Linked DNA regions of Homo sapiens. The protein of the gene in region 1 interacts with the protein of each later gene in a pairwise test. Each region holds a gene or a part of one and is shown on either strand. Other genes may lie near its edges.

Region 1 (2,619 bases):
ATTTCTCTAATTAAAGGTAAAAAGAGAAATGAGGGATGTTGAGGGAAGCAGACATCAGGTCAGTGGACTGGGGGTCTCTGTGAGAACAAGCTGTCAAGTCATAAGGGCTGGCCGGGCGTGGTGGTTCACGCCTGTAATCCCAGCACTTTGGGAGGCCGAGGTGGGTGGATCACTTGAAGTCTGGAGTTTGAAACCAGCCTGGCCAACATGGCGAAACCCCGTCTCTTCTTAAAAAAAATACAAAAATTAGCCAGGCATTTTGGCACATGCCTGTAATCCCAGCTATTTGGGAGGCTGAGGCAGGAGAATCACTTGAATCCAGGAGTCAGAGGTTGCAGTGAGCCAAGATCATGCCACTGCACTCCAGCCTGGGTGACAGCACGAGACCCTGTCTCAAAAAAAAAAATGATATATATATATATATATCATATATATATATATATATGATATATATATATAGATCATAAGGGCTGTTGGAACTGGTTCAGCCAGAGGTGTTGGGAGTATAGGTTGGAGGAGAGGCTGTTGGAGATGAATTTGGGGCATATGTAGGAGGTAGGATGGCCAGGTCTTAGACATGGCTTGGATATGAGGTATGTGGGAGACAAGAAGCAAAGAGGACACCATATTTCAGGCCTGTGCTTTTGAATCGGCAACAGTGCTCTTTCTAAAGGTAAGAACATGAGAAAACCTTCAACTCTGGGAGGATGGGAAAGATCATGAGTTTGGTGGTAGATATGTGGATTTGAGGTCTGTCACATGTGCAGGAGATGTCAAGTGGGCAGTTGAATATTCTTGTCTGGAGCTCACAGGGGAGTTCTAGGTAAGAGGTATGAGAGTGGTTCACTATTTGAAGCTGTGAATGTGCACGAGGTCTTCCAGGGTAAGAGAGGATAGGGTGAGAAGCAGAGGGCCTCTGACTGATAGACAGAGGCACCTTGAGAGACCCAGCTTCAAAGGATGGGCAGGACTTCCCTGGGCAGGCCACATACTTGGGGCTGTCTGTGGCTGGGATGATTCGTTTATTCGCTTACTCAAAAACTATTGAAGACCAATTCTGTGCCAGGTATATTGTGGGTGCTGGGGATGCAGCCCTGATGTTCAGGTCCACAGCCCTGGGGTCTGTGGGACAGTGGGGTCCTGTCCCTGTCCAGTGGTGGTTGCAGTACCTCCCTGGGGTCCCTGAGCTGGCCTGCTCTTCCCACAGCTGCGCATGGAGTACCTCTCCCTGATGCATGCTATAGTCCGCACCACACCCTACCTGCAGCACCGCCACCGGCTACCCGACCTGCAGGCCATACTGCGACGCATCCTGAATGAGGAGGAGACCTCACCCCAGTGCCAGATGGACCGCATGATTGTCCGAGAGATGTGCAAGGAATTCCTGGTGCTGGGGGAGGCTCCCAGCTAGCACCTTGCTGTCCTCCCTTCCCTGCAGCTCCAGTCAGTGTGCAGGGGACTCAGGGGCTTGGCCCTAAGAATGTTTTGCACTGACAGTGGGAGGGGATAAGGTGGCAGAAGGAACCTGAGCAGGACCCCCACCTGAAGTAGAACTTAAGAGAGGGGCCAAGTGTAGGATTGGGGACCATGGTCTGGGAGCTGTTCTGGGGCAGGGGGAATATGCAAGCTAAAGCCCCTCTATACCCTGGTAGGCTTCCTCTTCAGCATGCCCCCCTCTTCACCCCACACCCATGTGTACACTCAGAGTCCTGCTGCCGCTCCAGGCTGGACCAGACCCCCATCCCCACCCCTCCTGGTCTGTATCCTGGGCCTCAGCAAGCCATGCCCCTGGGGTGAGGGGAGGCATCTCCCACCAGCTCTATTCTTTGCCTTAGCTTTGCAGTGAGTGCTGCTCATGTCCTCCCCTCCACCCGCACATGGGGGTCGCTGCCCTTCACTCCTACCCCCAGAGGCCTTGGCCAAGCTGCTGCTTTGAAAGCGGGATCTTGGAGACAGGCCATCCATCCTGGAGCCTCATGGAACAGGATGATGGCACTGAGAAAGCCAATGACCGAATCTCTTTTCTCTGTAAAAATGTAGACTGAAAAGCCATGTGTATTTTCCTATGTGCTGTAGCTCTCCTTTGGAAATAAATCACAGGCATCTGGAAACAGGCTTCCCTGTATGATCTTGGGAGACAGTGGGAGAGGATGGGCAGAAGTACTGGGGCCTCAGGACCCCATCACTGCAGCTTGCACTGACTTCTCCAGCCTGAGGAGGTGATGGACCCTGACAGGCCTGGCCTTCAAGGCCCTTTGAGCCCTGTTCTAGCCTCTCTTCCCTGAGCTCCACTTTTCCTGAGCCCCAGCCATAGCCAAGTGCCCCTCAGCAGCCCATTCGCAGGTGTCTGCATCTCCAGGCTTCACTTACACACTTACATCTTTCTTTTTCTCCTTTTTTTTTTTTTTGAGACAGTCTCACTCTGTTACCCAGGCTCACTGTAGCCTTGACCTCCCAGGCTCAAGTGATCCTCCTGCCTCAGCCTCCTGAGTAGCTGAAACTACAGTAGCCACCATGCCCAGCTAATTTAATTTTTTTTTTTTTTTTTGGTAGAGACAGGGTCCTACTATGTTGCTCAAGCAGGTCTCAAACACCTCAGTTCCGGTGATCCTCCTGCCT
Region 2 (7,047 bases), on another chromosome or scaffold:
GGCAGGAGATTGGCGTGAACCAGGGAGGCGGAGATTGCAGTGAGCCGAGATCGCGCCACTGCACTCTAGCCTGGGCAACAGAGCAAGACTCCGTCTCAAAAACAAAACAAAACAAAACAAAAACAAAAATTAGCTGGGCGTGGTGGCGGGTGCCTGTAATCCCAGCTACTTGGGAGGCTGAAGCAGGAGAATTACTTGAACCCAGGAGGTGGAGGTTGCAGTGAGCCGAGATCGCACCACTGCCCTCCAGCCTGGCGACAAAGCAAGAATTCGTCTCAAAAAAAAAAAAAAAAAGTGCTGCATAAGCCTAGTAATCCTGGAGACATTCAGTCCAGGAGAGGGAGTCCACAGGGAGGTGGCCAAAGGGCACCCCTGCTACAGGGCTCTTGCCAATTGGCTGGGTTTGGGAGGAAGACCCAATGCTACAAAATCTTTGATTTTTCCAGAAAAGCTGAAAATTGGGATCTTTGAAGTGAAATTCTCTGATTTTTCAGTACAGATAGCTAATTCAAAATGTTGTGAACCACCATGGCAATCTGCAGGCCACGCCAGCACAGCAGCTGGTATTTTGATACCTTGTGCCTGTCAGTGGGATTGCGGTACTACCTGACCTGCCTCCTCTGCCACTGTCACTTTGGAGCAAAGGCAAGACCCTCAGTCATGAAGGGATTCAAGTTCTCAACCCACAGGAGCAGATGTGGGAAAAGAACCCAGATCTGAACAAGTGGAGACATGCACTTGGGAGGCAGACTTACATAATACATGGTCACTTTCACTAGAAAAGCCCTCCCCCAGTGAGGTCCACAGCATCCCTAGACTCTGCAATGCCTGGCACAGGGAAGTGCTCAATACACAGCTGTTGGGGAATGGAACGAACGACTATTTACAACATATTACAATTCTAATCAAAATGTTGAAAGGGTTTTTTTCAGTACAAAATGTTTCTGCAGTGTATTTCAAAAAACAAATTTGCAATTATAACAAACGTACCATATTAACATAAGCTGTTAGCTGGGCGCGGTGGCTCATGCCTGTAATCCCAGCACTTTGCGAGGCCGAGGCGGGCAGATCACCTGAGGTCAGGAGTTCGAGACCAGCCTGGCCAACATGGTGAAATCCCGTCTCTACTAAAAAAATACTACTAAAAAATTAGGCCAGGCATGGTGGCTCACGCCTGTCGAGGCCGAGGCGGGCGGATCACCTGAGGTCAGGAGTTGGAGACCAGCCTGGCCAACATGGTGAAATCCCGTCTCTACTAAAAAAATACTACTAAAAAATTAGGCCAGGCATGGTGGCTCACGCCTGTCGAGGCCGAGGCGGGCGGATCACCTGAGGTCAGGAGTTCAAGACCAGCCTGGCCAACATGGTGAAACCCTGTCTCTACTAAAATATAAAAATTAGCCGGGCACGATGGCGGATGCCTGTAATCTCAGCTACTTGGGAGGCTGAGATGGGAGAATCACTTGAACCCGGGAGATGGTGAGTGCAGTGAGTGAGCCGAGATCATGCCACTGCACTCCAGCCTAGGTGGCTAAGCAAGATTCCATCTCAAAAAAAAAAAAAAAATTAGTCCGGTGTGATGGTGGGCACCTGTAATCCCAGCTACTTGGGAAGCTAAGGCTGGAGAATCACTTGAACCTGTGTGTATACACATGTGTATATATTTGGGAGGCCTCAGCCTCCCAAAGTGCTGGGATTACAGGCATGAGCCTCTGTGCCCAGCTTATGCAGCATTTTTCCTTCTAGAGGATTTCAGAGAAAAGTGAAATCTTGGTTACACCCAGCCTGAGTCATTCACTCATATGTGTATTTTGCATATATACACGCATGTGTATATTTTACATACACATGTATGTGTGTATATATTTACATGTATGTGTAGATATATACACATGTATGTGTATATATGCTGTTAACAACACGGGAGATTACATACAGAAGCCAAAGGACCTATGCATTATTTTCCAATTTTTTTTTCTTTTCTTTTTTTTTTTTTTTTTGAGACAGAGTTTCACTCTTGTTGCCCAGGCTGGAGTGCAATGGCACAATCTCGGCTCACGGCAACCTCCGCCTCCTGGGTTCAAGTGATTCTCCTGCCTCAACCTCCTGAGTAGCTGGGATTACAGGTTCGTGCCACCATGCCCAGCTAATTTTGTATTTTTAGTAGAGACAGGGTTTCTCCATGTTGGTCAGGCTGGTCTCGAACTCCCGACCTCAGGTGATCTGCCCACCTCGGCCTCCCAGTGTGCTGGGATTACAGGCGTGAGCCACCGCACCCAGCCATTATTTTCCAATTTTTATGTAAATCTATAACTGTTCTTTAAAAAGGGCTGTTTTGAGAATAGATTTTCTTTCTTTTTTTTGAGACAGAGTTTTGTTTGCTCTGTCGCCCAGGGTGGAGTGCAGTGGTGTAATCTCGGCTCTTTGCAACCTCTGCCTCCTGGGTTCAAGTGATTCTCCTGTCTCAGCCTCCCAAGTAGCTGGAATTACAGGCATGTGCCACCACATCCAGTTAATTTTTCTATTTTTAGTACAGACAGGATTTTGCCATGTTGGTCAGGCTAGACTCAAACTCCTGACCTCAGGTGATCTGCCCGCCTTGGCTTCCCAAAGTGCTGGGATTACAGGCATGAGCCACCGCACCCGGCCGAGAACAGATTTTTCAAAAAAAGACCAATAAGGAATTGCTCAAACAGATTTTTTTTTTTTTTTTGAGACGGTCTCTTGCTCTGTCACTCGGGAGGTGGAAGTTGCAGTGAGCCAAGATCGTGCCACTGCACTCCAACCTGGGTGACAGAGCGAGACTCCGTCTCAAAAAATAAATAAATAAATAAGATGTGATGCAGATGGAATCAAGATTCAAACAGATTAAAGAGGAGTTAGTAAGTGAAAAATGTGGAGGATAAATGCTAATAGGACTCTGTGGTGGAGACGGTTGCCTACCTATGGCTGAGTGGATAATGGCCCCCAACACATCCACATCCTAGCCCCTAGAAGCTGGGAATATGCCACCTTACATGGCAAAAGAGGCTCTGCAGATGTGATTAAGGACCTTAAGATTCGGACATGATCCTGGATTATCCAGGTGGGCCTGGTGTCATCACAGAGGTCTTTATAGGTGAAAGAGGGAGGCAGGAGAGTGAGAGAAAGAGATGTTATGACAGAATCAGAGGGAGGGAAATGCGACTGCTGGCTGTGTAGATGGACGAAGCCATGAGCCAAGGACGGTGGGCAGCCTTTGGAAACCAGAAAAGACCAGGAACAGGTTCTCCCCTAGATCCTCCAGAAGGAGCCAGCCCTGCCAACACCTTGATTTTAGTCCAGTGAGACCCATCTGGACTTCTTATCTCCAGCTACTAAGTCTGTGGTCATTTGTTATGGCAGAAACAGAAACAAATATACTATCCAATCTGTACTCTCTGCTAGCTCTTTAATTAAAAACAAATCACGTCATTTGTTATGGCAGAAACAGAAAACAAATATACTATCCAATCTGTACTCTCTGCTAGCTCTTTAATTAAAAACAATCAGCACCTTGGAAGGCCAAGGCAGGAGGACCACTTGAGTCCAGGAGTTCAAGACTCACCTGGGCCACTTAGTGAGACTCGTCTCTACTAAAAAAAATTAGCCAGGCACAGCGACACATGCCTATAGTCCCAGCTACTTGGGAGGCTGAGGCAGAAGGAGCACTTGGAGCCTGGGGGGTTGAGACTGCAGTGAGTCATGTTAGCACCACTGCACTCCAGCCTGGAAGACAGAGCAAGACCCTGACTCAAAAAAAAAAGAGAGAGAGAGAGAGAGAGAAAATGAAACCAGAAATATAGAACCTTAGAGTCTAGCCCATTCCCTTGGTTCTCAGTCCTTGGATGGGGACAAGACAATCCCATCAAGGCAGAAGAGAAGGCAGTAGATAATACAGATAGTTGGTTTTATTTGTATGCCTTTAACACCTTCCCACCACAAGGTGGGGAAAGTCTTCTAAGAGGGCCACTCACATATGATGTTGTGCCTGGCGGTGCGGACTTGGTACAGGTCCACGTCTGACCGGGGGTAGCCCTCACAGTCCACCAGCGGCTCGTTCATCCCAATGCCTTTTTGCTGGAGGAAAGAAACGTGGTTAAAAGGTGCTCATGGGTGTAATGTCCCCAGGATGTCTTTCCCCAGACCCTTCTCCTCTGAAGTCATAATAAAGGTGACAGTAATGAAAACTGCCACATACTGATCACTTACACCAGGGGCTCTACTCATGCCCTCACAACTACCCTGGGGTGGGCACTGTGTTTTTCATTTTTTATTTTTAACGACGCAAGTAATGCATGAATCCATTCTTTTTTGAAGTTAAAACAGTGCCGATAAAACCAAAGACTCCTTTGAGCATCATCCCCAAGGCCAGCCTCTTCCTCCACTCCTTCACACCCTCCTTCCCACAGGTGGCTGACACCTGGCTGCTGGCCCTGGAAGCTAGAGGGGAGTGAAAAGCCCAGACAGCACCCAGCTGTGGCAGGGCTTTGATTCTTCTGAAAATAAAAAGATCTGAAGAAGGAAACTGATAGCACCAGCTGCCTCCGGGGAGAAGAACTGGGTGGCTAGGTGACAGGGCAGGGAGAGAGACAGTCCATTTTATACCCCTCTGTAGGTTTTGAATTTTGCCTATGGGAATGTATTCTTTATTCAAAACAACACTTTTTTTTTTTTTAACATGAGTCAGAGGAGAGTACACAAAAGCAGTGAAACCAGTCACATGGTTCAGGGGAGGGGCTTTGCAATTGGTTAGACTTTAATTTGAATCTCAACTCTGCCATGTACAAGCTGGGCATCCTTAGCTGAGACCTTCTCCTCTCTAAGCCTCAGCTTCCTCAATTATAAAATGGGAATAGGAGCACTCGCCTCCCTCCCTACCTGCTGCAAGAACTAACGAGCTGACCTGCAGAGTACTTAGCACATGCCACGCGCATACACAGCATAGTGGGTTGAAGAGCGGCCCCCAAAAACAGATAACCACGAGCTAACCCCCAGAACCTGTAAATATGACTTTATTTGAAAAAGAGTCTTTGTAGATGTAATTATGTTAAGGATCTCGAGATAAGCTCATCTGGTGGCTGGTGTCCTCATAAAAGAAAGGCAGAGGTAGGTGTGGGACAGACACAGGAGGAAGGCCACATGAAGATGCAGGCAGAGGTTCAAGTGACACAGCTGTAGGCCAAGGACCGCCAGCAGTCACCAGAGGCCAGGAGAAAGGCTTGGGAGCTTCTCTCTCAGAGCCTGCAGAAGGAGCCAACCCTGCTGACACCTTGATTTCAGACTTCTGGCCTCCAGAGCTGGGACAAAGTAAATTCCTGTTTTAAGTCACCAACTCTGTGGTGTTAAGGTGGCCTCAGAAAACGACTACGCGCAGAAGTCATAAATAGTGGCTGTAAGGATTAGTCAGTCCAGGGACAAGCTGCCAGTGTACACAGGCACTGAGAAGAGGGATTCCATTCATTTTGCTCCCTTTCTCTCTGGAAGCCTCCGGGTTACACCCAAACCTACTGTCCACTGCGCAGGGAGATAGTTCTCCACACTCCCCTAACACAGGACTCGCCGTGACACTGCAGAAATGCGCCAGGGGCTAAAAACCTGTATCTGCTCCTGCCTTCCCACAGTGGTTAAGGGTTGACCAGCCTTTGAGAATCAATATCACATTGGATAATGCTTCTCAAAGGATGGGATCCATAACACTAGCAGCTCACACACACGGCATTAAATAACCCTGAATCAAAAATACATATTCCTCTCCCAATTCTCTACAATCCTGCAATTGTCAAGGCAAAAGTGTCCATTTGGTGCTGGTCTCTGCAACACCCCAGTTACTTGCTATCTCTAGTACCCTCTGTTTTTATAACAGTTTTATTGAGATATAATTCAGATACCATATAACTGACCCATGTAAAGTGTAAAAGGTAATGGCTTTTGTGTTTGTATTGGTTTGAGACAAGATCTTCTGTTGCCCAGGATCGGGTGCAGTGGTGTGTTCATAGCTCACTGCCGCCTTAAACTCCTGGGTTCAAGCGATCTGTCTCAGCCTCCTAAGTAGCTGGGACCACAGGCACATGTCATCACACCTGGCTAATTTTTAATTTTTAATTTTTTTTTTTTAAAGACAGAGTCTCGCTCTGTTGCCCAGGCTAGAGTACAGTGGCGAGATCTTGGCTCACTGCAAGCTCCGCCTCCTGGGTTCAGGCCCTTCTCCTGCCTCAGCCTCCCGAGTAGCTGGGACTACAGGCGTCTGCCACCACACCCGGCTAATTTTTTTGTATTTTTAGTAGAGACGGGGTTTCACCGTGTTAACCAGGATGGTCTCGATCTCCTGACCTCGTGATCTGCCAGCCTCGGCCTCCCAAAGTGCTGGGATTACAGGCATGAGCCACCATGCCCGGCCTTTAATTTTGAATTTTTTGTAAAGATAGGCTCTTACTGTGTTGCCCAGGCTAGTCTCAAACCCCTGGCCTCAAGTGATCCTCCTGCCTCAGACTCCCAAAGTCCTGGGATTACAGGCATGAGCCACCACGCCTGGCCATTGACCATTTGTATTGACCATATTTTCTTTGGAGAAATGTTTATTCAGATCCTTTCCCTGTCTTCTAATTGGCTGTCTTTTTATTATTGAGTTGTAAGAGCTCTTATTATAGTCTAGATACTATCCTCTTATCAGAGAAATGATATGCAAATATTTTCTCCCATTCTGGAGCTTATCTTTTCATTTTACTATGCCCTTTGAAACACAGTTTTAAAGTTGAAGTCCAACTTATCATTTTTTCTTTTGTAGCTTGTGTTTTTGGTGCCATATCTAAAAAGGCTTTGCCTAATCCAAGGTCATGAAGATTTACTCCTATGCTTTATTATACGAGATTTATAGTTTTAGCTGTCCACTTCTTTTTTTTTTTTTTTTTTTTTTTGAGATGGAATCTCTGTCACCCAGGCTGGAGTGTCGTGGTGCAGTCTTGGTTCACTGCAACCTCCGCCTCCCAGGTTCAAGTGATTCTCTTGCATCAGCCTCCCGGGTAGCTG

The links. The genes of interacting proteins can lie anywhere in the genome.
Region 2: the proteins of NCKIPSD (region 1) and PSMD9 interact in binary tests that used the Homo sapiens proteins (3 or more experiments, as listed by UniProt).

What each region holds. Positions count from the first base shown.
Region 1 is NC_000003.12:48,673,336-48,675,954, reverse strand, and holds the end of NCKIPSD (NCK-interacting protein with SH3 domain), read left to right. Parts: intron 1-1,207; coding exon 1,208-1,411; 3' UTR 1,412-2,111; downstream 2,112-2,619. UniProt on the Homo sapiens protein: Has an important role in stress fiber formation induced by active diaphanous protein homolog 1 (DRF1). Induces microspike formation, in vivo. In vitro, stimulates N-WASP-induced ARP2/3 complex activation in the absence of CDC42.
Region 2 is NC_000012.12:121,891,790-121,898,836, reverse strand, and holds part of PSMD9 (26S proteasome non-ATPase regulatory subunit 9), read right to left. Parts: intron 4,099-7,047; coding exon 3,996-4,098; intron 1-3,995. UniProt on the Homo sapiens protein: Acts as a chaperone during the assembly of the 26S proteasome, specifically of the base subcomplex of the PA700/19S regulatory complex (RC).